2 separate regions of the Homo sapiens genome follow, and region 2 is linked to region 1. The links come from fine-mapping of genetic effects on gene expression. A gene starts in region 1. The other region holds a variant in brackets. All regions are shown on one strand. Distances are between the middles of the regions.

What was found. PIP is the estimated chance that this variant, and not a neighbour inherited with it, causes the effect.
Region 2: its variant is fine-mapped to the expression of SF3A2 in visceral fat (GTEx, PIP 0.99).

Annotation. Positions count from the first base shown.
Region 1 is chr19:2,228,555-2,240,006 of GRCh38, forward strand. It overlaps SF3A2 (splicing factor 3a subunit 2), which reads left to right and starts at 8,270. Exons shown (of 9, transcript NM_007165.5): 1 at 8,270-8,347. DOT1L (DOT1 like histone lysine methyltransferase) reads left to right here. Exons shown (of 28, transcript NM_032482.3): 28 at 1,231-4,024. The coding sequence ends at 1,238. It overlaps PLEKHJ1 (pleckstrin homology domain containing J1), which reads right to left and starts at 7,775. Exons shown (of 6, transcript NM_018049.3): 1 at 7,601-7,775; 2 at 7,369-7,436; 3 at 7,208-7,274; 4 at 5,596-5,686; 5 at 5,444-5,507; 6 at 4,599-5,351. The coding sequence starts at 7,694. The coding sequence ends at 5,286. MIR1227 (microRNA 1227) reads right to left here and starts at 5,595; the gene lies at 5,508-5,595. It also overlaps MIR6789. RefSeq lists enhancers at 6,000-6,579, 6,582-7,190, 7,799-8,407, 7,986-8,035, 11,178-11,452 and silencers at 7,216-7,845, 8,456-8,555.
Region 2 is chr19:2,174,824-2,189,433 of GRCh38, forward strand. DOT1L (DOT1 like histone lysine methyltransferase) reads left to right here. Exons shown (of 28, transcript NM_032482.3): 2 at 5,890-5,933; 3 at 11,032-11,106. Among named protein-coding and RNA genes, the nearest start is that of DOT1L, 18 kb to the left of the region's middle. RefSeq lists enhancers at 5,867-6,450, 7,923-8,082, 8,273-8,362. The variant A/C (reference allele first, on the strand shown) is at 9,585.

The DNA.
Region 1 (11,452 bases):
ACCAGCCATGGAGTGGCCTGAGTGTGTTGGGTTCCAGCTGCCCGCAGCTGGGTTCCTGCGGTGACGCCGCAGGACTGAGGCCAGCCCTGGGGGCAGCTGTGCCAGCCCCTGTGGGCGAGGCTCACGGGGTGCCAGGCCAGGGGGCTGGGAGCTCTAGCTCCTAGAGCAGTCTCCAGGGCTCCATCCGCACCAGGCCCAGGTCACTCATGACGGGTGGCGTGGCTTGGTGCTGTTCCCCAGGCGCCCAGCATGTAGCAGGCACGGTGCCGGCTGCAGAGGTCCTGGAGAGCCAGGGTGGCTGGCTGGATGCCTCTGGTCGGGGCTGTCTGGCCAGTAGCCTCGGATGCCCTCATAGGGAGCCAGTGAAGCCCCAAGTGCCCTGCCTGCCTGGGGGCTGATGGGTTCCCGGCGGGGTCGAGAGGCAAGCTCTGTGCCCTGCGTGTTGAGGCCCCCTTGCTGGACACGGCTGATGGCCACACTGCCCTGTGGTCATGGCCCACAGCCGAGGGGCTTTCAGCTGCTCAGATGTCAGCACCAAGCTGGGCAGGTTAGTGTAGACGGTGCCCACCTTTGAGACCAGAAGGAAGTTGGAAGCAGGAGTGATTTTGATGATGTGAGGCCTTCAGGGAATGTCCTGTTCACTCCTCCCCCAAGAGGCTGTGGAGACTGTGGCCGCTGACCCCTGAGGGCAGTTGGCCACCCGTGCCCTCCAGGGACATGGCGTGCCTGGCGGCGTAGTGCAAAGGTGCCCTCTGCTTGCCCCTGGCCTTCTGCCTCAGGGGCCCCTGGGACACAGGCCTTCCTGGGCGAGTCCAAAGCCCACCGGGCAAGGAGAGGAGGACTGGGAGCCAGGAGCCAAGGCGGAGGCTGTGGCCAGGGCTGGTCAGCCTGGCGGGTCAATGCGGGCACCTGCGGGCTGGACAAGCTATGCTGGGTCTCTTAGGAGATGAGCTGCAGGTAGGGTGGCTTTAGCTGGACTCGGCTGTGTGTCTCCTTTGGAGGAAGGCTGGAGCTTGGCCGGCGTGTCCAGGTGTCAGGCTCCCTGGTCTGTCACGGGGCACGCCCGTCGTCTGTTGTGGTTAGAGGAGCTGGCACTATGCCTGTCATGGTGCTGGCCCCAGGTGGCGTGTGTGCTCGTGGGAGGCCTCGGTCCCCAGCCTGGGTGAGTGTTGGGCTCCCCCAGGCGCGATGGTAACCTCAGGCCGCTCTTCCCGCTGTGCCCTTCTGCAGGTAACTAGGATTTCTACCTCAACCGCGAGACCTATGCAAGGACGGTGTGGACCAACTCGCGCCCGCGGCATGGTGCCCGCCGGCCTGCCGGGCTCCCACCCCTGGACGGCAGAGGCAAGGACGGACGGGAGCTCCACTGTGAATCGGCGGCACGCGCCGCAGGAGGCTGGGACTGGTCCAGTTTGTACTGTCGATAGTTTTAGATAAAGTATTTATCATTTTTTAAAAAGTATAAACAATTCTGACTTATTTTATTCCATCTAAGTGGTAAAAGGCAACTTATTGAGAAATATAAATATCTATATATGAGAGCTCTATATAAAGACACGTGTCTGCAGGGCGGGCCCGCCAGCGGATTCGCCACAGCCTGCCCCGGTGCTATCTCGTCCCCAGGCCCGCGCCTGCCTCCACCCGCTTGGTGCTGACTAGACGCTGACAACGCCGAACCCCGTTCTCGGAAACGCCGCCCGGCCGGCTCCCCCGACGCGCTGCTCCCGTACCAAAGGCAGGCCCGTCGCCACCACATTCCTCGGAGGCCTCCCCGCGGCCTGAGCCCCTTCCTGAGCGCCCTGGCGCCTGCCCTGAGCTCTTCACCTTTACCCCGGCACTGTGAACCCCCAGACTGTTCACCCTCCGGGGCGTGGGTTGCGCCCTTGCATGTGAAGGGGCCTGCGCGGTGACGCAGCTGGCCATGTGCTGCGCGATGGTGCTGTGAGGACGGCGCGGGCACGTTGAACAAGTGCATTTACTTTTGTATTTCTCGGCTGTCCATGGCTCGCAGCATGCCCTGCGATGCGGGGCAGGCCTGTCGTGGGTCCCTTGGTGTTTCTGTACAGGAGAGAGTCACACTAATGAGTGGCAGTATTTTATAGAGATGTGATGAGAATTTATAAATTTCATAGATTTGACAGCTTTTATTTTTAGATGGTATAATGCACAGTGAAGAGGAAAGAAAAGCGAGGGGAAAAAACCTTATTTATTCAAACAGTGCACAAAATGGCCCCAGCGTCAGCCCCGACCCTAGACCCCTCAGTTGCAGCTCCCAGCAGCCCAGACAGAGCTGCCGGCGCCCCTGCCTGCCCCACATCCCTTCCTGTCAGGGCCACGCCTGGCACCCATCCCTTGGAGCCTGTGCTGGTTCTCCCAGCTGCTGTGGGTGTGCTGGGGCCAGGGTGCACTGCTGAAACCTGGCCTCTCTGGCCCTAGGCCCCAGGGTGACGTCGGCCCCCCACTCTGCAGCCTTGGCGGGTGCCTGGGACTGGGTGTGGAAGGAGAGGAGCTGAGGCCGGGGTGTAGCAGGCAGGCAGGGCCACTCCAGTGCTTCTGGAGCCCTGAGCAGTCAGGGCCTGGGTTGTCTGAGCAGTGGTGGCTCTGTGCCCTCCCTGGAGGATGGGATCTGGGAGTCTGAGCTCCCCGCATCTGGCCCTGGGCTGTGTGGCACTTGCTGAGCCCACCTTCTCAAGTGCTTGCTCCTGTGAGATGGCATCGGGGAGCCCCTTCCCCAAGGTGCCACAGATCCACCCTCCAGGGAGCTGCCAGCCCTGTGTTCTGGTTCCCAAGGGCAGGATGGACACACGTCACATCCCTACCACGTGGCCTCCAAAGGGAGCCACGGAGGAAAGGCTTCTGTGGTTGCTAGGTGGGGGAGTCCTGTGTGGGAGGGCCTGAAGACCCCTGCTTGTGCCTGGTGAGGGGGGTGCTGCCTCCCCCAGCCCCCAACAACCTCTCAGACCCCCACCCTCCAACATAGCTGAGTTCTGAAGATGGTGCTCCGGACCTGTCCTCTTAAGTGGTGCCCAGTGCCCTCCCCACCCCACGTTGGTGCTCTCAGCTAGAAGGTGCTGTGCCTCTGCCTGAGCCCCAAGCCCCGAGCCTGGCCTTCAGGACAGGCAGCCTGCTCTGTGTCGCCACGGGCCGGATACGCCACAGGGTTGATGGCAGAGACGGCCGAGTCCCTGGTCTAGAACAAGACACATTCTTTAAACACTGTATTACTTCTGCCTCCCTCTAGGTGACAGTGGCAGTCCGGGTGCCATCACGGGTCCTGCAGATGGCCATGCAGGGCTCCTGCCCACGCAGGCCACCGTATGTTCAGGACACGCACTGGGTCTCAGAGCCACTGGCCCAGGCAGAAGTCTCCTTGAGCCCACTGGGTCATATGCGTGTCACCACACGTGAACTAGTGTGGTGGCTGCCTGCGGACACCCTCCTGTTCTGAGCCCTGGGCCTGTGTTCTTCTCAGACACTCCCAGACTGAGGGGTGGTGTGTGGCGGGTGGCAGGGTGGCTGTGGAGACTGGGGATCTGGAGCCTGGTGCTGGCACCTGGCCTGAGTTTCCGTGGGCAGCTGGCGGGGACCTGTGCTGCTGCTGCTGACTGTGGGTGGGCGGGCGGCGCCTGGGAGTGGCTCTTGCTCAGGAATTGATAGGAACCCTAAAAACTAGGATACCCCCTCCTCGGCCCATGAGGCACGCACAGTGACTTATTTAAGACTTCCCCCTTAATTTATCTGCCCCCAGGATGCGTCAGTCTGTTCAGTGGTCAGCAGGCCCCCCACCCCCCGCCGACTGCCCTCGCCATCGTGGTCAGACCCCCCTCCCAACACAACACGCTGCTGGTCTGTGTCAGCCTTTGTAACGTGGGAGGCTCTGCCGTGTCTTCCGGGTGAACTGTATTTGGATTGCGCGCATTGTCACGGTCCGCCCCTGGGCTGCAGGCGCCCCTTCCTCTGGGCACCCCTGCATTCTGCATCCCCACCTCTAGACGCTGTAATAAACAGACTGTTTTCACTCGGACCTGGTGTGAATGGCAGCCTTTCTTCCAGGTGGCATGAGGCGTCTCCTGGCGGCCAGTGAGAGGCCCCGGCTAGTGTGTCATCGCCGAAACGGGGAGTGGAGGGCCTAGGGGTGCTCCTAGCAGAAGCTCCGGGGGCTGACACCAGGACACCCTGGCCTTGGGGAGGCTTATGAGGGCACCAGGCCACAGGCAAGGGGAGGCTTATGAGGGCACCAGGCCACAGGCAAAGTGCCTTTTGATGAACGGAAAACCAGATCTGCGACCCCAATGACATCGGCAAAGTCCTTTTCACATCAGATGGACCAAAGCCCGCCCAGGCCCCAGCCACACTCCGGGAGGGCCCGTGAATGCCAGAGGCAGGACCCCAGGTCACCACAGGATTCCTGATACCACACAGCAGCTCTGTTCTCCCCAGGCCTGGGTCCCAGCCTCCACCTGTCCTGGCTGGGGGTTCTAGCTCTCCCCTCAGTGCAGGAGGCCCAGCCACTGCCTCTCAGGACCCTGAGCCTTACTTCCCTTGGGTGGGGGCTCCCTGGCTGCCCCTCCCCTCTCCTTCACTTCACCGCCATCCAGTGTGGAAAAGAGGTACCTTTATTTGAACAGAACAAGCACCCTGGCCCCAGGGCAACCACTTCCCCAGGTGCACAGCCAGGGCCCTCCTGTCTGCAGGAGAATTCACAGCTGGTGTGGGACTCAGCCCCTAGGCCATTCACAGCTTTGTCTGGCTCTGTACATTCATTCAGCACGGGGCAGGGGGGCCATGCCACCAGCCTGGGGGCTCACCAGGCCCCTGGATGCACACAACTCAGGCAGGGCACCTGTGGGAAGGCGCATATCCTGGCGGCAGCAGCACGTGGCACCAGGTGCCAGGCCAGTTAGGTGGATCCTGGGGCCCCAGGGAGCGCAGCTTGCTGGGCAGTTTCATAAAATGCAGCCCCTGCCCACACCCACCTGGCTTCAGGCTTTGGATGTCTCCAAACCAAAAACCTCCCACTGAAAATCCAGGTGTGATGGCCGGGTGTGGCGGCTCATGCCTGTGATCCCCGCTACTTGGGAAGCTGAGGCAGGAGGATCACTTGAGTCCAGAAGGTCAAGGTCACAGTGAGCTGTGGCACCACTGCACTCTAGCCTGGGCAACACAGTGAAACCCTGACCCAAAAACCAAAAACCAAAACAAAACAGATCCAGGCATGGCCAAGCGATTCATGGCTGGGCAGGGCCAGTCCCGTCCCGCTGCACGCTGACCACCGTGCCCTGCGCTCACGCCTGCAAGCCACTCAGCTGGAACCTGGCCTCCTCGGATATGCCGAACTGTTCCAGGGGGTCCTGTGGGGAGGACGGGTGGCCATGAGCCAGGGCTGGAGGACTGCCTCTGCCACCTGCAGCCCCACCCCGGCCCTCTGCAGCCCTGCACACACCTTGCCCGTCACCTTCCGGATTTCGTTCCTGTAGAAGATGAGGCTTCTCCGCATGAACTCGTAGCTGGGGAAAAGGGTGGCACGGGGTCAAATGCCCGCTCTGCATGGCTGCTGTGCCCACCCCAGCAGTGCCCACCACCGCCTGGCCCCACCTGGCCCGACGCAGAGCCTCCATCCACTCCTGACACTGCTCCTCGCTGCTGCACTCAAAGTGATACTTCCTCTCAGGGTCCTCAATGAAGCCTGGGGATGGAACACCTGTGGTCGGTCCTACCCACAGCCACAAGCAGCTTCCTCTTGCCATTGCCCATAAACTGTCCCTTCTCTGGCCCCCACAAAGATGTGTTCATGTCCTGACCCCCCAGAACCCATGAGTATGGCCCTGTATATAAACAGGGTCTTTGCATATAAACTAGTCAAAATGAGGTTGTCGCCAGGTGCGGTGGCTCATGCCTATAATCCCAGCGCTTTGAGAGGCCAAGGTGGGAGGATTGCTTGAGCTCAGGAGTTCGAGACCAGCCTGGGTGACATGGCAAAATCCCCATCTCTACAAAAACAAAAATTAGCCAGGTGTGGTGGTGGGGCCTTGTAGGCCCAGCCACTCCGGAGTCAGAAGTGGGAGGACTGCTTGAGCCAAGGGGGTTGAGGCTGCAGTGAGCTGTGATCACGCCACTGCACTCCAGCCTCGGAAACAAAAGATCCTGTCTCAAAAATAAAGAGGGCCGGGTACGGTGGCTCAAGACCGTAATCCCAGCACTTTGGGAGGCCGAGGTGGGAGGATCACCTGAGGTCAGGAGTTCGAGAGCAGCCTGGCCAATATGGCGAAACCCCGTCTCTACTAAAAATACAAAAATTAGCTGGGCATGGTGGCGCGTGCCTGTAGTACCAGCTACTCGGGAGGCTGAGGCAGGAGAATCACTTGAACCCGAGAGGGGGAAGTTACAGGGAGCCGAGATTGCACCACTGCACTCCAGCCTGGGCGACATACCAAGACCCTGTCTCAAAAAATAAGCAAATAAAATAATAAAGTGAAGTAAAAAGGGGTTGTCAGGGTGGGCCCTAAATTCTGCTTGGCGTCTGTGTAGAAGGGGAAATGTGGGCACAGACGTGATGCAAGGAGGACAAGGTGACGCTTCCACAAGCCAAGGAACCTGGAGGATACTGGCCACCACTAGGAACTGGGAGATTCCCCTCGGCCTCAGAAGGATTCGGCCCCACCCACACCTTCATCTAGGATTTCTGGCCTCCAGAACTGTAGAGAATGTTTCTGATATTTAAGCCACCTGGCCTGTGGAATTTTGACAGCCACTCTGGGCAAACTAGCAGGGACTCCATCTTTCCCCGCAGAAGGGAATCTCTTAAGACCCAGGAGAACACCCCCCTCTCACTCCTCCTACCCCCACCTGGGATTTCCAGCCCGGGGCCATATAACAATGCTAGACCCATGCTACTCTTGGCAGCTGGGGAAACGCTTTGGGTGGGGCTGGCCCACCTGCCCTGTAAGTACAGCCTGGGCCCACAGGGAACAAAGAGCAGAGTCTGGGAGGGACCCAAGCTTAAGTGGACTCGGCAGGTGGGAAGGGTGGTGCCCGCCAGGAGAACTTGACCTTGAGCTGCCCGTGGACAATGCACTCTTGTGTTTGAGGAGGGTGGCGCCAGGCTGGGGACACAGAGGAGACCTTGGGCGCCCGGGGAGGGGAAAGTGCGGCGCTGCGGGTGCCCCGGGCTGCGGGAAGCGCCGCTGGCTTCCCTAGCCCCACTCACTGATGGAGAAGGTGCCGGGCTCTTCCCGGACGACTCTGCAGCGCTCCAGCAGCAGGGCTCCGACGGGCTGGAGGAGACACGGGCGCCGGGACGGGGCAGTGAGCACCCGGCCTCCGAGGGGCCCAGCCTGGGACCCGCCCGCGCGCCCGGGACGCCCCTACCTCGGCCTCGTCTGTCCGAAAGTAGAAGAGGAAATTCACCACCAGCTTCACCAGCCGCCGCTTCAGCACTGCGGGCACAGCGCGCACTCAGGGGCGCAGGCAGCCCCCGCCCGGACCCCGGCCTCCCGTCCCCGGCGCCCCGACCCGGACTCCGGCCTCCGGCACCCCCGCCCAGACCCCGGCCCCGGCCTCCCGCCCCTGGCACTGTCTCGGTCTCCCGGGTCCCGCTCACCGCTGCCCTTCTTGGGGCCCCTCATGCCCAGCTCGGCCGCCATCTCGGCCGGCTGCCGGGACAGAGCCTGCAGCTCCTTCTCGTTGTACCGCATGGCTCCGCGGGGAACGGGAACCCGGGCCGCGCCCTCCCGGCCGCCGTCCCCGCTCAGGCTGGGGCCGGCGCCAAAAATGTCTCAGGGCGCAGACACGGAAGCACCCCCAGGGCTAGTGCGCCTGCGCACCTTGGGCCAGCCATGCCGCCCGCCTCCGCTGCGTGGCGCTGGCGACCCGTGGCTGCTGGCGTGGGCGGGGTACCGGTTGGTAGGAGAGACGGACCGTTGTTACATAACCATTAAACTGAAATAAACCGGACCAAGGTGGAACAGAATCAAGGCACCCCAGCGATGGCTGGCACCCCTTTCTAGAGCGGCCAGGCGCAGGCGGAGGGAGCGATAACGTCGCCCGGAGAGTGTCAGCCGCTCCCTCGCGAAAGTTGGCCCCGTGCGGCCGCAGCGGACCGAGGGTTCGTTGAGAGCGTTGTGCGCACGCGCAGTTTGCCTTCCAGGCCGCGCTTTCAGCCTCTCCCCCTCCAGCCTTTTCCTTCGCGCCTCGGGACCCTCTGACTCACGCCGCTGGGCGGGCCAGGCATGCGCACACCAGAGGGCCCGTCTCATTTGCCCCGGAAGTGCTTTCTTTGCCCGCCGTTCGCCAAACGAAGTCGTGGAGGTGGCGAAACGAGGAGGAGATAACGCGGCCTTGGGCTCTGGTGAGGAGTAGAGGCGGTTGAGGGCGGCGGCCGACGCGGACCGGGGGTTCCCTGGGGGACAGCGGACGTAGGAGAGAGGCGCTTGCGACAGGCCGCGGGCCGAGGGTGGGGCGGCGGCGTCGCTCCCCTCCCTCCTCCCGTGAGCGTCCGGCCTTGTGCATCCTGAGGCCCCGCGCTGGGCGGGCCTGGAGGGTCGGGCCCGCCAGGAACTCTATTTCCAAACTCCTGTTGGGAGGCCGCGCGCGGGGCCTCACGCCTGTAATCTCACTGCTCAGGGAGGCCTTGGCGGGAGGATCGCTTGAGGCCAGGAGTTCGAGACCAGCCTGGACAACACACCGAGACCCCCATCTCTACAAAAAATTTTAAAAAATTAGCCAGGAGTGGTGGTTGTACCTGTAGGCCCAGCTACTCGAGAGGATCGCTTGAGCTCGGAATGTCGAGGCTGCAGTGAGCCATGATCCCACCACTGCACTCCAGCCTGGGCAACATAGCGAGACCCCATCACTGCAAAAAAAAAAAAAAAAAAAATTAGCCGGGCGTGGTTGGTGACGCGCGCCTGTAGTCCCAGCTACTCTGGAGGCTGAAGCGGGAAGATCGCTTGAGTCCAGGAGGTCGAGGCTGCAGTGAGTTGTGATTGTGCCGTTGCACTCCAGCCTGGACAACAGAGCAAGACCCTGTTTGACAAAATAAAAAAGAAACAACCAAGATTCGTTGGGGTCGAATCGGGATCGCGGCTGAAATGGTTTCGGCCGCCTTCCTTGTAGCCGAGAACGCTTCTGTATGCTCATCTATACCTGTTAGTTGACTGGGGCTCTGTGATGTAATTCCTGTGAGCCTCAGTTCCCTTAAAATGGGAGTGACGGCTTCAACATCATGCCAAAGGCGACCAGAACACGTTAGCTGGCCCCATTTTGCAGGTGCACCCCGCTGTGACCGTTGTTCTTGTGTATCCTTGGACGACACCAAACAGCCAGGCGGAGCTCTGGAAAATAGGTTGTTGGCTAGGTTAAGGAGAGAACGGTGTTGCCACGAAAAACTAATTCCTTCTCAATGGTCTAGTCCCAGGTCCCAGAGGCCACTTTTCCTCAATTCTTAAGCTCATTTCCCCTGGTCGTCATCGGTTTTTTGTTTGTTTTGAGACAGGGTCTTGCTCTGTCACCCAGGCTGGAGTGAGTGCAGTGGTGCAATCACAGCTTACTCCAGCCTCAAACTCCCATGCTCAAGCCATCCTCCTGCCTCAACCTCTCGAGTAGCTGGGATCACAGGTGCTCACCACCATGTCCGGCGAATTTTTGTATTTTTTGTAGAGACGAGGTTTCGCCATGTTGCCCAGGCTGGTCTCGAACTCCTGACCAGGTGATCCACCTGCCACGGCCTCCCAAAGTGGTAGGATTACAGGCATGAGCCACTGCACCCGGCTAATTTTTGTATTTTTTGTAGAGATGGGGTTTTACCAGGTTGGCCAGGCTGTCCCCTGATCTTTACCTTAGTAAGTAACAGATTTCTTCATGGATTTATCAATTTGTAGACATCATCTGCTGATTTCTTGTCACGGCTGTTGAGATCTTCTCCCTCCCATCCACCCACTGCACCTTCACCTTCCATATCCTGAATGAGTTTATGTCATGAGCATAGTTGGTCATTGGTTGTGTTTTCTAAATAAGATGCAAAATATTGTTGGCTGCTAAAACAAGTAATATGTTCAGCTAGGCTTTTCTTGTACCATTCTATCTTCCCTTAAAGCTAATTAACTTTGTTTTTACCATGAGCCTGATTTTCTTTTACCTGCTGTTTGTTTTTTCCCCACAAAGCTCCCACCTCTCACACACCTATCAGTTGTATTTTGCATAGGTTTAAATAAATTGATCTCCCCTCACCACTTCCCTCCAAGACCCCCTTATCCTCCTCCTCCAAATGGGACTGGTTGTGCTCTGACCTGGAAGTGGAGCTGTTGTCCCAAACCTTCCTGTCCTTGCTCCCCTGTGCTGACCTCTGTTTCCAGTGTGGTCATCTCTTTCCCTTCATGCTGTCCGAGCAAAACTTCTGGGAGCTTTTGAAGAAACAGATGATTTTTTTCGGGGGGTGGGGGAAGTCCTTGATTGTCTGAAAACGAGTTTATTTACCCTCATAGTTAGAAGTTTGGTGGGGTATAAAAATCTAGATTGAAAATCTGTATTTGTAGGCCGGGCGTGGTGGCTCACGCCTGTAATCCCAGCACTTTGGGAGGCTGAGGCGGGCGGATGACCTGAGTTTGGGAGTTTGAGACCAGCCTCGCCAACCTGGCGAAATCCCATCTCCACTAAAAATATAAAAATTTGCCAGGCGTTTTGGCATGTGCCTGTAATCTCAGCTACTCGGGAGGCTAAGGCAGGAGAATGGCTTGAACCTGGGAGGTGGAGGTTGCAGTGAGCCAAGATCGAGCTACTGCCTGGGCGACAGAGCGAGAATCCGTCTCAAAAAAAAAAAAAAAAAAAGAGAGAGAAAAAAATCTGTATTTGCTCAGAACTGTGAAAGCATTGTTTTCAGTGCTGTTCTCAAAAGATCAGTTCCTATGCTGGTTTCTGATGTTTTCTGCTCAGTTGTCTTTCTGTCTAGTAGAAGCTTAACATCTTCCTTGGTGTCGTAAAATTTCCTGATTTCCTCATTTACCGGGGATCTTTTTATTTGCTGATCCTGGTGGGTGCTTGGTATCTGGACAGTTTGGTTCCTTTAGTCCTGGGTTTTGTTTTTGTTTTTAATTTTCTTGCTAATGTTCTTATGTTATTTCTGTGATAATATTTTTCCTGTTTTATTTTGTTGGGTGTTTTTTCAGTTCTCACTCTGGAATGTCCTCTAGGTTCTTGCTTTTCCTCCTGTTTTTTTAACTTTTGACTTTCCTTTATGAAAGATTTGTTTGGCTCAGCTTCCAACTCTGGTATGGAATTTTTTGTTTGGATCGTCCTGTCTGTATTTTTCAAGGGCTTTTTGTTTTAATTCAGCTTGTCATTCAGCTTCCTGTTCTGGGTTTGTGGTGCAGTGGCTTCCCCCGATAATGAAGGAGGGTGTCAGCGATCTCTTACTGGGATACCCATCAGTCTCTTTGTTCTCGGATGCGTGTGTTTCTCT
Region 2 (14,610 bases), 52 kb before region 1:
TGAGGGTCTCAATATGTTGTCCAGGCTGATCTCAAACTCCTAGCTTCAAGCAGTCCTCCCGCCTCAACCTCCCAGAGTGCTGGGATTACAGGCATAAGCCATTATGTCTGATCTCTTTTTAAGTTTTTAAATATATGTGTGTGTGTGTGTGTGTGTGTGTGTGTGTGTGTGTATATATATATTTTTTTTTTTTTAGATGGAGTCTTGCTCTGTTGCCCAGGCTGGAGTGCAGTGGCGCCATCTCGGCTCACTGCAAGCCCCGCCTCCCGGGTTCATGCCATTCTCCTGCCTCATCCTCCCAAGTAGCTGGGACTACAGGCGCCCACCACCACGCCCGGTTAATTTTTTATATTTTTAGTAGAGACAGGGTTTCACTGTGTTAGCCAGGATGGTCTCGATCTCTTGACCTCATGATCCTGCCCGCCTTGGCCTCCCAAAGTGCTTGGGGATTACAGGCGTGAGCCATGGCGCCTGGCCGATATTTTGTATCTTTTTAAGAGTTGAGGTCTTGCTATGTTGCCCAGGTTAGAGTGCAGTGACGATCATGATTCACTGTGGCCTCAAACTCCTGGGCTCCAGTGATCCTCCTGCCTCAGCCTCCTAAGTTGCTGGGACCCCAGGCATGGGCCACTGCATCTGGCCAAGGAGATAAATTTTCATAACTTATTTAACCAAGTATAACTGGAATATTATCATTTTATCATGTAATTAAAAAATTGTTCTGGCTGGACGCAGTGGCTCACGCCTATAATCCCAGCACTTTGGGAGGCTGAGGTGGGTGGATCATCTGAGGTCAGGAGTTCAAGACCAGCCTGGCCAACGTGATGAAACCCCATCTCTACTAAAAATACAAAAAATTAGCCAGGCGTGGTGGCTGACGCCTATAATCCCAGCTACTCAGGAGGCTGAGACGGGAAAATCGCTTGAACCCAGGAAGTGGAGGTTGCAGTGAGCCGAGACTGCGCCATTGAACCTGGGAGGTAGAGGTTGCAGTGAGCCGAGACCACACCACTGCACTCCAGCCTCGGCAACGAGCAAAACTCCGTCTCAAAAAAAGAAAGGAACTCCCACACGAGCTGGAAGCCAGCACTGGGCTCTTCCGCACAGAGGCTCCCACCCATAGACCAGGAGTACGAACCCAACCGTGCTGCTCTAGACATGGGCCCTGGGATGATCACCCAACCTCTGTGTCCCGGCTCTGCCTGTCCCCTGGGCTCTCCAGGAACAGGTCTGTGCTGGAAACGCCTCTTGGCCGAGGCTGCTTTTACTAGACATCCACTCTCAGTTGGGGGTCCTCCAGGCCCTGCACACCCACCCACCATGAGAGGGAATGTCACCGCTTGGCCTTTGGGATTCAGAAAAACCTGGTGAAGTCTGCACAAAGCCCTGTCCCCCAGCCCTCGGTCCACACAGCATCCCACACCACAAGGCACCTCTGGACAGGAGGCAGTGCGAGCAAGAGGGGACAGGGGCAGTAACTCGGGGTGCACTGCCTGGTGGGGACACTGTCTCCCTAGCTGTGAATGACAGGGAATGAGGCACAAGGACGAAACAGGCGTGGGGCAGAGGGCACGGCTCGCGGGAGTTGCAGAGCGAGTTCACCCTGCTACTGCTTCTGCGGGGCACTCATTTTTAGAAGTACACTTACGTGGCCCCCAAAATAATGTCACGCTGCCAAGGAGAGCAGGCAAGGGCAGGTGACACCGCTGTCAATCAGAGCATTTCCAGCCCTCACACCTGTGAGTCATCTGGCTCCCAGGAACATTCTCTGTTCCAGTAAGGCCTGCGCCTGTGAGAAGCGCTTGGCTGAATCCTAGGAAGGGGGACTTGGGCCGACAGCCCCCTCCAACCTGCGCAGCCTCAGGACACTCAAACCACAGCTGCAAACACTGCCAGCCAGACATGCAGCTCCCGCGGCCACCACTTTGAGACAGCGACTCCCTGTGACAAGAAAACTCTGAAACCAGGCGAGGCAGGGCCCTCTGTCAGATGATCACTGGGGAAGACGCTATGGACAGACAGGAACTTCTGGGACCACAGCAGGCTGGAATTCCAGCTTGAGGAGGGAGAGGGGAACCCTGCCGTGGGCCCTGACAGTGAGCAGGAGGAAAGGGGTCTCACAGAAGCAGGACCCCGATATGAGGGAGCAGGCCCAGCACCCCTTCCTCCCGCCCCCAGCCCCTATCCAGAGAGCAGGCTGGCCCTCTGGGTCTCGCTTCAGATGCGTAGAACCCAGTGCTTCCGGCTGCACCCTGCAACATCCCGCAGCAGTCTGTGGGGGTCCGCAGGAAGAAGACTCCCCCGTGAGGGGGAGCTCTGTGGAGCGGCACTGTCCTGACGGCAGCCACTAGCCACTCGGCTGTGGGCACCCGACATGTGGCTGGCGGGAAGGAGCTGTGCAGAGCACAGAACATACAGGAAACGACCAGGTGTGCTGCACTCGCCCCACACACGCAGTCAAATCACGCAGGAACAATTTTTTTTTTTTGGGAGAAAAAGTTTTGCTCTTGTCGCCCAGGCTGGAGTGCAATGCCGCGATCTCGGCTCACTGTAACCTCTGCCTCCCGGGTTCAAGCAAGTCTCCTCTCTCAGCCTCCCTAGTAGCTGGAATTACAGGCACCCGCCACCACACCCAGCTAATTTTTGTATTATTAGTACTACTAACAATTTTTATATTATTAGTGGTAATAATTTTTGTATTACTAGTGATAGAGCTAATATTTGTGTTATTAGTATTCGCCACGTTGGCCAGGCTGGCCTCGAATTCCTGACCTCATGATCTGCGCCCAGCTCGTGTTGAAGTTCTTTAGCCACCTTTGAGCAAGGGACCCTATTTTCACTTTGTCCGGGGCCTGCAAGTTCTGCCTGCTCCCTCGCCAACCCTCGCCAGCCCTGCTCTCCGCTCTGCCCAGCCCCGGCTCTTGCCTCCTCCTATTTCTTTTTCCTTTTTTTTTTTGAGCTGGAATCTCACTCTGCTGCCCAGATTGGAGTGCAGTGGTGCGACCTTGGCTCACTGCAAGCTCTGCTTCCTGGGTTCAAGAGATTCTCCTGCCTCAGCCACTGAGTATCTTGGATTACAGGTGTGTGCCACCACACCTAGCAATTTTTTTTTTTTTTGAGATGGATTCTCACTCTGTATCCCAGGCTGGAGTGCAGTGGTGCAGTCTCAGCTCACTGCAACCTCTGCCTCCTGAGTTCAAGTGAATCTCCTGGCTCAGCCTCCTGAGTAGCTGGGATTACAGGCACGCACCACCATGCCCAGCTAATTTTTTTTTTTTTTGTATTTTTCATAGAGATGGGGTTTCACTGTGTTAGCCAGGCTGGTCTTGAACTCCTGACCTCGAGTGATCCACCCGCCTCGGCCTCCCAAAGTGCTGGGATTACAGGTGTGAACCACCATGCCTGGCCATTTTTTTTTTTTTTTTGGTATTTTTTTGTAGAGATGGCGTTTCACCATGTCTTTGGGAGGCCAAGGCAGACAGCTCACTTGAGGCCAGGAGTTTGAGACCAGCCTGGCCAACATGGTGAAACCTTGTCTCTACCAGAAAAAAAAAAAAAACAAAAAATCTCCAAAACACACTTCACTTTGAAATTTTTTTTTTTTTTTTTTTTGAGACGGAGTCTTGCTCTTTTGCCCAGGCTGGAGTGCAGTGGCGCGATCTTGGCTCACTGCAAGCTCCGCTTCCCGGGTTCACGCCATTCTCCTGCCTCTGCCTCCCGAGTAGCTGGACTACAGGCACCCGTCACTACGCCTGGCTAACTTTTTGTATTTTTTAGTAGAGATGGGGTTTCATTGTGTTAGCCAGGATGGTCTTGATCTCCTGACCTTGTGATCCACCCGCCTCAGCTGGCCTCCCAGAGTGCTGGGATTACAGGTGTGAGCTACCGCGCCCGGCCACGCCCAGCTAATTTTTTCTATTTTTAGTAGAGACGGGGTTTCACCTTGTTAGCCAGGATGGTCTCTATCTCCTGACCTCGTGATCCACCTGCCTCAGCTTCCCAAAGCGCTGGGATTCCAGGTGTGAGCCACCACGCCAACCCCTAAAGTGGTTTTAGACTTAGAAGAAAGTTGCAAAGCACCGCACAGACTTTCTATGTGGCTTTATTTCATCACAGTACCCTGATCCGAACCAGGAGGTGGACGGAGCTGTGGCCTCAGTGGCATATACGTCCCATCCCATCATTGCCATGAGCCCTTGTGTCTCCTGTCTCCCCTATCTAGGCTGATCCCTCAGTGCATAAGGAAAGCTGGGGGGGGGTCTCCTATGGTCTGGCCTTTGGAGGAGAGCCAGCTGGGGTCTCTGTGTGGCACCCCTCAGTCAGGCTTGGCTGCTTCTCTCAGGGTTATACTGAGGTTCTGCATCCTGGCAGGAGCCCCACAGATGGGGTTGCGTCCCGCTGGGCCTTGGGAGGCTCGTGGCGGCTGCGTGTCTCACTGTGATGACGCTGGCCTTGTGTTTCGTCAGGTGGTGTCCACAGGTGCCCTGCTGGTTGCTTTTTCTCTGCCCTGGGAGAGGCTCGCTGAGGCTGCACGGCTGCCTGGGAGAGGCTCGCTGAGGCTGCACGGCTGCCTGGGCGGCCTCTGACGCGCCCTGTGGACTGCAGCATCCAGGGGATCGCGTCTGCAACTCTTATTGCTTTGGCGTTTACCTATTGGGGATTTAAAAAAAAATTGTTCATTTTTATAAAAAAGACATGGGCTGGCTGGGCACGGTGGCTCAGGCCTGTAATCCCAATACTTTGGGAGGCTGAGGTGGGCGGATCACCTGAGGTAAGGATTTCGAGACCAGCCTGATCAACATGGAGAAACCCTGTCTCTACCAAAAATACAAAGTTAGCCAGGCGTGGTGGCTCATGCCAGTAATCCCAGCTACTCGGGAGGCTGAGGCAGGAGAATCCCTTGAACCTGGGAGGTGGAGGTTGCAGTGAGCCGAGATTGCACCACTTCACTCCAGCCTGGGCGACAAACAAACAAACAAACAGAAAAAAGACATGGGCTCTCGCTGTTTCCCAGGCTGGCCTCGAACTCCTGGCTCAAGTGATTCGCTCCCTGCACCCAGCCTGTTGTGGGTTTATATCAGCACAGTAGCACGCAGACGCGACGAAAGTGCACGTGTCCTGGTGGCGTGCACTTGGTCTCTGATTCTCGGTGATGGGTGTGGAGTCGGAGAGGCTTGGGTGGCCCTGCTGGGTGTGAACCTGCCTTTGACATTGGCCTTGTAGAGGGAGCGAAGGGCAGGGTGCTGGACGGGGAGGGATCTGTGTTAGGCCAAGGACCTTGGTTTTAGTTGTGGCAGGTTCTGGGCTATGGCGAGGCCGCCCACGTGGGCTAGCCCAGTGGTTTTTTTCCCATGGTACAGTTGGGGAAACAGGCCCCGTGGAGGCTCTATCACCTGCGGTCACATACCAGGCCTTTGCCAACGCAGGACTCCCAGCCAGGCTGGAGCTCCCTGGCTGGAGCAGCGTCGGGAGAATTCCCGGTGGGCCTGCGGAGCGCGGTCTGAGGGACTTGGGCTGTGTTGAGGGATCAACTGACCTCCAGGGAAAAAATGGGGAGACATGTGGAGCGGAGCTTGGGGCGGCCGTTTGCTTTAGGGTGGGAGAGGAGCAGGACCGGGGGCCATAGACTCCATCCCAGGCCGCTGCCTGCTCGCTGCCTGTAGTAGGACACAGCGTGCCAGAATAGGTCCCCGGCAAGGTCTGTGTTCCCTTCGTGGTCCAGGGTCTGGGAGTGTCTCTGGTGGTACCCGCTGGGTGGTGGGCTTGGGAGCTGCACCAGTTGGGAAATGAAGAGATGGGAAGTTGACGGCATCGCTTGTCCGGGAAGAGAGCGATGGGCTCACGGGGTGGAGGATGGCTCTGCGTCTCAAACTTCTCTCTCTGTTTCAGGATAAACATCACGATGCTGCTCATGAAATCATCGAGACCATCCGGTGAGTGCACGGCCTGCAGTGTGTTGTCTTCACAGCCCTGAGCCACTTCCGTGGACACCCGTGCCCTGCAGATTCTGTTGTGGGGATGGCTCCTGCAGGGGTGGACTCCTGGAGGTGTTGTGAAGCGGATCAGGGGTGACTCAGGGACGGGTAGAGCTGCTTCTCCCAGCTCCATTCCTGGCCAGTGGGTGCAGAAGTCTTGAGCTGCTGGGGTGTCCAGTGGGTCCTCCAGGGGCGTTGCCCTGCCTTCCTCTGTCTCCTTGTCAGTCTCCCTGCTGTGGGTTTTGGGCCGACCTTCACCCTCACGCGCCCTCGACGGCCTCCTGTGTCTGTGCCCCATGGGTGCAGAGAGGAGCATTCTGGGGGTGACTTGGATGGGCAGGAGGCGGAGGCCGTCCTGTCCTCGTAAGCTCCAGCCTGGGCTCCAGGATCTGCAGCAACAGTGCAGGGAGGCCCTCTGGGTGCCTCTCTGCTGCCCACTGGGAAGCTGCCCATGGTGGCCGGCATTCTGCGTGTCTCAGGTGCTCAGGGTCAGAACCCTCATTGTGTGGCACCTGCACGGAGGCCACATGTGTCCATGTGGCCCTGGCGTCTTGCTGGTCTGTTCCTTAGCATACTGGGCTGTGAGGACACCGCCCGTGCCCATGCCCAGCATCTGCCCAGGCCTGCAGCTGCCATAAGGGCCATGCTGAGCTCCTCTTGGCCGGGTGGCTCTGTGCCAGGCCCCTAGCTCCTGAGGCCCTGTAGTTCAGTGTTGGGGCCCAGCGGCACCTCCCTGGCCAGGTTGTTTGAGGATTAAGTGAAATCGTTTGTGTAGGTCGGCCAGGGTGGGCCTGACCCAGGGTCCGTGCTTAGAATGTGGGATCTGCTTTTTTTTAATGTCATGATCCGTGGACCAGGCAGTGGAGTAGGGGCCCCTCTGTTCTTTGTAAAAGAAGTCTGGTGTTATGGTTGGAGGGAGGGCTCTGGATCAGGCAGCTGGACCCCAGCCCAGCCCCCGCCCAGCACCAGCCCCAGCCCCAGCCCCAGCCCCAGCCCCAGCCCAGCTGCAGCATGCTTCTGGCGGCCAGCCGCCTCTCTCTGCCTGGGTTTCTCTTGTTGCAGCTGGGGGCCAAGACTCTGCTGGCGTGGGCCTCTGTGGGTGCTCCTCACAGAGGGCCGGGCAGTCTTTTTAAGAATGCTCAAGCTGTGCACGGTGGCTCACGCCTATAATCCCAGCGCTTTGGAAGGCCAAGGCAGGGAGATCGCTTGAGGCCAGGAGTTCGAGACTGGCCTGGGCACCTTGGGGAAACCCTGTCTCTACTAAAAAAAAACACAAAAATTAGCCGGGTGAGGTAGCAGGTGCCTATAGTCCCAGCTACTTTGGAGGCTGAGGCAGGAGAATAGCTTGAACCCAGGGGGCGGAGGTTGCAGTGACCCAAGATGGTGCCACTGCACTGCAGCCTGGGTGATAAGAGTGAGACTCCATCTCAAAAATAAATAAATAAATAAATAAATAATGCTCAGCTGGGCATGGTGGCTCACACCTGGAATCCCAGTGCTTTGAGAGGCTGGGAGGGTTGATCACTTGAATCCAGGAGCTGGAGATTGGCCGGGCAACATAATGAGACCCCAAGTCTACAAAAAAGTAAAAAATTAGCTGGGCATGGTGGTGCACACCTGTGGTCCCAGCTACTTGCGGGGCTGAGGTGGGAGGATCACTTGAGACCAGTGGCGCTGTGATTGTGCCACCGCCCTCCAGCCAGGCAACAGAGTGAGACCCTGTCTCAAGAAACAAAACCCAAACAAGAAAGAGTGCTCCAGGGCTGTGGCTTCCCGGGGCTGTGACTGTGCAGGTTCTGCCAGTGCTGCCCAGACGTGGTCTCTCTGGGTTAGGATCTCGGTGCAGCAGGGGTGGAAGCCCCTCTCTGACCAGGCGCTTGCTAGTGTGTCTGGAGGTGCTCAGCAGCAGGGGAGCTGCACCTGCTCCCCATGGGAAGGGGCCTGCACAGACTTCTGGGGTCAGAGGAGACCCCAGGCCCCCGGATCTCAGGCAGTGGCGGTGAGAGTGCCTCTCTGGCTGCATGCTCGCCTTCTGCAGGGCTCGGAGCTGACTGTCTTGTTTGAACCTTGTGTGTTTTCTGGGGAGCGCATCTGGAGTCTGGAGCTTAAGCGTTGTAGGGAGCAGGGTCCAGGCACAGGGGCGTGCACCAACACCTGGGCATCCGCGACGTAGGCAGAGACCTCGAAACTCGAACCCCCACCACCTGGAGAGGCTGCTTTCTCCCGTGCATCCCCAGCATGTGGCCAGGGTTCTCACGGTGTGGCTGCACAGACCTTTTCTGTCTCACTTCCTCTAGAAACACCGACGACGTTCTTACACAGCAAACACCATTCAGTCCCCATACGGCCAGTGTCCCAAGCACGTCCTCCCACAGTGGTGTTGTTTTTTTGAGTCAGCGTCTGGCTCTGCTGCTCAGGCTGGGGTGCAGTGGTGCCATCTCAGCTCACTGCAACTTCCACCTCCCAGGTTCAAGCAATTCTCCTGCCTCAGCCTCCCGAGTAGCAGGGATTACAGGTGCCTGCAACCACGCCCAGCTAATTTTTGTATTTTTAGTAGAGGCGAGGTTTTGCCACCTTGGCCAGGCTGGTCTCAAACTCCTGGCCTCAAGTGATCCACCCGCCTCGGCCTCCCGAAGTGTGGGGAGGGCTGTTGTTTAAAGATGATTGGGCTGTCCTAGGCTCTCCTCGTTTGGATGTCCGTTGAGAATCAGCCTTTCCATTTCTCCAGAAAAGCTAGCTGGGCTTTTTCTAGAAATTGGTTTGAGCCTGCAGTTCAGCTTGGGGAAAGGGGCGTTTAAACAGTGTCACTCCCAGGTATTCCTGCTTCAGTGCTTTTTTTTTTTTTTAAGGCGGAGTCTCACTCTGTTGCCCGGGCTGGAGTGTGGTGGCGCATCCTCGGCTCCCTGCAGCCTCCGTCTCCGGGGTTCAAGTGATTCTTCTTCCTCAGCCTCCCGAGTAGCTGGGATTAGAGGCGCCCGTCACCATGCCCAGCAAATTTTTGTGTTTTTAGTAGAGACAGGGTTTCACCATGTTGATCAGGCTGGTCTCGAACTCCTGACCTCGTGATCCGCCTGCCTCGGCCTCCCAAAGCACTGGGATTATAGGCATGAGCCACCACGCCCGGCCTTTGGTGCTTTTTTATGTGGCATTTTGACAATCCTTTGCTGCTAGTATGTGTAAAGACTGCTCCCTTTTGCCTATCGGCCATGCCCCTGCTGAGCTCTGGCGGTGTCCGCGCGTATTCCTCAGCACGCTCTGTGGCGCAGAACCACGGGACTGAGTGAAGACCGTGCGGCCGCTCCTTTCAGGCTCCTTGCTGCTTTGAGTGTTTTTCTTGCCGAGTTGCGCTGGCCGGAACCTCCTGGACAGTGTGATGAGAAGTGACTGCAGATGGCCTTGCTTGGGTTGCTCTCGGGGCCTCGCTCGGTGCCTGGGGCTTTTGATGATCTGCATTGTGAGGTCCCCTGCCGGTGTTGGCCAGGTGTGCAGGCGTTGACCATGCTGGGGACGGGTGACGAGAGGCACCAATAATCACAGAGGGCGGATGCCACAGCCCTTCTGACAGGATGCTGTGTCTTTCAGTGTGGAAGGGTCTTGGAGGGCACCCGG[A/C]CCTGAGGTCAGGTCCTGGCCAGCTGGTTGGGGAGTCTGGGGACTTGGCGTGGGGTAGGGGGCAATGAAGCTACTCTCGGAGTTCTGGGAAGCTGCCCGCTGGACTTAGCAGGTCAAGAGGACTGGGGAGCAGAGGCCGAACCCCCATCCCTCCCTGACCCCTCCTGCAGAGCCGCAGGCCAGGTGGCTGCGGAAGGTGGGCCTGCTGCTGTCACAGCGGCTCAGTGACTGGTCCCGTGCCCTTTCCAAGCGGAAGGCGTGTCCTTCCATTTCTGGCCTCTTGGAGGGTACCGTCCTGATGGCACCGAATGCCGTCCTGTGGGCTTTCCGTACTCGCCCACACGGGGCTGCTCAGATCTCCGTCCTTGTTCCTTCGGTGAATTGCAGTGACTAATTTTAGAGTGAAGCAGCTTTTCCTCCCCAGGAGGTGCTGTGTGTGGTTGTGAGGTGCCGCTGCGGTTTCCTCACGTTTTTAAGGGATAGTGGGGTGTGTTGGTCAGGGATGTTGGTCAGCTGTTGCCTTTCTTGTCCTTTCTTTCCAGCCCTTTGCGTCTCTATGGTTTTGGTGTCAAGATGACGCTGGCTGCATAAAACTCTGAGAAAGTTTCTGTAGGTTTAGTGTTTGTCTTGTCAGTGTTTGATGGAATTCACCAGTGTGTTTTTGTATTTTGTATTTTTAGTAGAGACGGGGTTTCTCCATGTTGGTCAGGCTGGTCTCCAACTCCTGACCTCGTGATCTGCCCACCTCGGCCTCCCAGAGTGCTGGGATTACAGGTGTGAGCCACCGCACCCGGCACCAGTTGGCTTTAGTTTCTAGTCAGTCAGTTGCTTTTCGAGCTCTGATGTGGCCAGTGGGTCCCTAGACCAGCCCTGTAGCAGATAAGTTCACTTAGGTCCCCAGAGCCACTGGTGTGTGGCCTCGAAGCCACGTAATACCTGTGTGATTCAGTAACAGCTTCGTGGTAAACATCGTAGCCTTCGTTTTGAAGTCACGCCTCCCTTCTCTCTCCACTTTGAGTGGAGGGGTAAGGATGTTTGTTTTCTGTTGGAGAGGATGCAGTGTTTAAGAACATGCGGGGTAATACTCAAGATTGTTTACACCTGTCATCCCAGCACTGTGGGAGGCTGAAGTGGGCGGATCACTTCAGGTCAGGAGTTTGAGACCAGCCTTGCCAAAATGGCCTAACCCGGTCTCTACTAAAAATACAAAAATTAGCCAGGCGTGGTGGTGGGCACCTGTAGTCCCAGCTACTTGGGAGGCTGAGGCAGGAGAATCGCTTGAACCCAGGAGGCGGAGCTTGCAGTGAGCCAAGATCACGACACTGCACTCCAGCCTGGGCAACAGAGTGAGACTCCGTCTCAAAACAAAAACAAAAACAAAAACAAAACACAAAACAAAACAAAAAAAACCAAACCCTTCCTGATCGTTTCTGCTGCTGTGTTTCAGATGGGTCTGTGAAGAAATCCCGGATCTCAAGCTCGCTATGGAGAATTACGTTTTAATTGACTATGACACCAAAAGGTAAGCAGAGTCCTGTCCAGCCGCTCCGCTCCGAGGACAGACTCGGCTCTTGGGGAGGACAGGAGGACGCATCCTATAATTAGCTCTTCTTAGATGGTGCAAGCTGATCTGAAATTTCCTTTTAGAGTTGGCCGTGGCCACCATAAAGTTATTTTGGTAGGAAATGTTTATCAACTCTTGGCAAAGGCTGTCAGAGGCCGGACAGAATTGGAAACTCCGGTTGTGGAAAGTGGGATTGGCATGTGTGGAGTCAGCCCGCGCTAGTGATCGCTCTTTTTATAGCGGGCGGCTGACGGCCAGAAGTCCGCGTTCCTGCCTGAGGCTGCTGGGAGGGCCTGGGCGGCCTTAGGCTGCTTGGCAGCTCTGTTTAGATCTCAGCTGGGTTTGGTTAGTCCCTCTGTCTCCAGCCCTGTGGCTGCGTTAGCAATTTCGCCCTGGCAGCTCCTGGGTCTCGGAGGAGGGTCTTGTGGGTGGAGAGGGGCAGGGCTGTCTCTGGAATGCTTGCTTGGAAGTGTTTTGTTTTTCTTTGACAAGGAAGACATTCCAGGCTCATGCCTTTTTCAGCTCTTGAGTCTGAAATCAACAGAGTAGTCCTCCATCAAGGGCTGTGCTGTCGTGAGCTTAGGTGAGCCCCTCTCCACAGAGAGTCAAGCCCAGAGGGCCACGCGGCTGCACTTTACCTGGCTCTCCGGCCTCACTGGCATGTGGGAGGGACTCTTGTCTGGGGTCAGCGGTCTCAGCCTCAGTAAACCTCGAGATCCTGTGCCCCTCCCTCGAGCCCTGCCCATTCCCTGGTCAGCACCCTGGTGCCCCACAGGCAGACAAGCGTGTTGCTGGCAGGGTCCTGCGTGCCGACCTGCTGCTGTGGATTTCACGCCACCTGCCTCGCATGTCGGGGCCTCTCGCCACCCCCCCTCATTGGGCGTGATGGTGTGCTGGGCCCTTCCCTGGTTTAGTATGAAGAGTGTGATGCAGCGTGCAGATCAACAGCCGCATGGCAGGGTCCACAGGGAGGGGCCTGCAGGGCCCTGCACAGAGCTCTGTGTCCGTGGAGTTGGGGAGCACTAACCCCAAAGCTCTGCACCCTGTGCTTTCGGGTTTTCACGGAGGCTTCTCGGAGACTTGCTTGATGATTGCCTCCATCTCCAGTCCCCTCTTTCTAAGCTTCTTACCGCAGCTTGGGCTTTACCTCACCCAGGAGCCCCCCACAAGTCGCTTCCTTACAACAGAAGACACTCCTGTCACCTAGAAGTTCCCAGGGATCAGGAGCTTTGTTAGGAACTAGAGTCCCCTCGGATGAGTGGGTGTTGTCGGGCTGAGCCCTTTCACATTAACCTGGGGCAGTTATGGCACCTCACTTGTGTGTGGCCAGCTTCTGCCTTGGCTCTGAGCAGCGAGCGTGTCAGACGCTGTGCTCACGGCGCCCCTCCACGTGGGTGTGTGGCGTCCTTCCTCTTCGCGTGGGATGGGCTTAGCCAAGGCTGGAAGGACATCAGGGACAGGCTGGGCAGGGGGTCTTCGTTGGAGCTGGCAGGGCCACCTGAGGGACCGAGCCATTAGGGCTTCAGACCAAGGACAGCCCCAGCTCCTCTGAGCACCTGCATTTGCACAGCCTGCCAGGGAAGAGTCTCTTCCCAGGAGCGTGCAGAGGTGATTTTGGGAAGGTCTGGTTGTCAGGGTTGAAGGCGGCGTGTAGAAGTGGAAACACAGGGGCTGGGCACCGTGGCTCACACCTGTAATCCCAGCACTTTGGGAGGCCGAGGCGGATGGATCACGAGGTCAGGAGATCGAGACCATCCTCGCTAGCACAGTGAAACCCCGTCTCTACTAAAAATACAAAAAATTAGCCGGGCGTGGTGGCGGGTGCCTGTAGTCCCAGTTAGTCAGGAGGCTGAGGCAGGAGAATGGTGTGAACCCGGGAGGCGGAGCTTGCAGTGAGCTGAGATCGCGCCACCGCACTCCAGCCTGGGTGACAGAGCGAGACTCCATCTCAGAAAAAAAAAAAAAAAGGGAAGTGAAAAGACAGGAAGGGCCAGGGCTGCTCCTCTGGAGCTGCGGGGAAGGCGGGAGGCAGCAGGCCGGCTCTGTGGGTTCCTCCGGCCCGCATGGTGCCTGCTGGCCCTCTGCACCACCTGGGCTCCTTCCACCCCCGTGTCCTTCGTCCTCCGGAGGATCCAGGTCCTGTGTGGCCGTGCTCCCGGGGCTGTCGGCAGGCTCTTGTTCTTGGTGTTTGCTCCTCTTAAGTTCTCTTGCTTTATCCTATGCAGCTGCTGGTTAAGGAAAACATGAACTTGGCCTGTGGAGCACTGGTTTTCCTATGAGGAAGGGGAAGTGTGAACCTCGGCACATGCAGTGCCCAGGTGAATTCAGGGTGGCCAGGGCAGGGCAGGAAGAGCATGGGGCTGGGGCTGGGGTGGGAGCAGGGGTGTGATTGTTTAGCCACGTCTCGGAGCATCTGCCAGGCTCTTGGGGTTGCCATTGGGAGGAAACTGCTTGCGTGCACGTGGAGGTGGCGGAGGACGGAGGCGGAGGAAAGAGTCCCCAGCCGCCGCCCCCCCCCCCCCCACCCGCACAGGTGCAGGCCCCCTCGGCGCTGGGGATGTGGAAGTCGGATTGTTCTCTGGGAGGGGCCGTCCTGGGCACTGCAGGGTGCCGAGCAGGGTCCCTGCCTCCATCTCTTGCTTGCCTCGCCACATTCCTGGGGTCCCCGGTGAGAGCCACTGTGTGTGACAGTGTTCACTGGACAGGTACGCCTCCTCCTCCTGTCTCTTGCTCTGCTCTGGACACCTTCTGAGGTGGAGGGACAGACGCTGTTGTCCACATTTTGCCAGTGGGTCCAACAGACTTGGAAGATGAGCAAGTTATCCCAGGTGGAGACTGGACAGACTAGGCCAGGCAGACCCCGTAGCAGGCTTGCCCCCACCCCGGAAGCCCCTCTGAGCCCAGGCCTGGCTGGGCCGCGTGGCCGGTGTTTCTTGTGGCTCACGTGCCCCACAGACAGTGGGCACTCCCTGGAGCACAGGTGCCCCCTGCCCTCTGGTGGGCTCTGCCCCGATGCTGTTGGGTTGTGGGCACTTAGGTAATGAGGGTTTGCCTTGCGGCCAGGGCAAGGAGGGCAGAGTTGCTGCGGGGGGACTGAGTCTCACTGTGGACCCTGCTGTGCCGTGTCTGACATGACACACTGCTGACGTGACACACTGCTGACGTGACACACTGCTGACATGACACACTGCTGACGTGTGAATGAGTTGGAGCTTTGGAAGGACACGCTCACAGAGCAGTGTGGGTGGGGGTGAGGCATCTTCCTTTCTGCAGTGCTCACTCCTCCTGCACCTGCCCGGGCAGAGGCCTGGTGGTCCCTGGGAGACCCCAGCCGTTCACCTGCCTCTGGCGATGGTGGCTGTCCCCAGCCAGGGCAAGGAAGACCCTCTAAGGCCGGCCCCAGGGTTTCCCACTTGGGGGGCTGGCCTCAGTCCCCCTCGAGCCCTCTTTCTCTCCTCACGC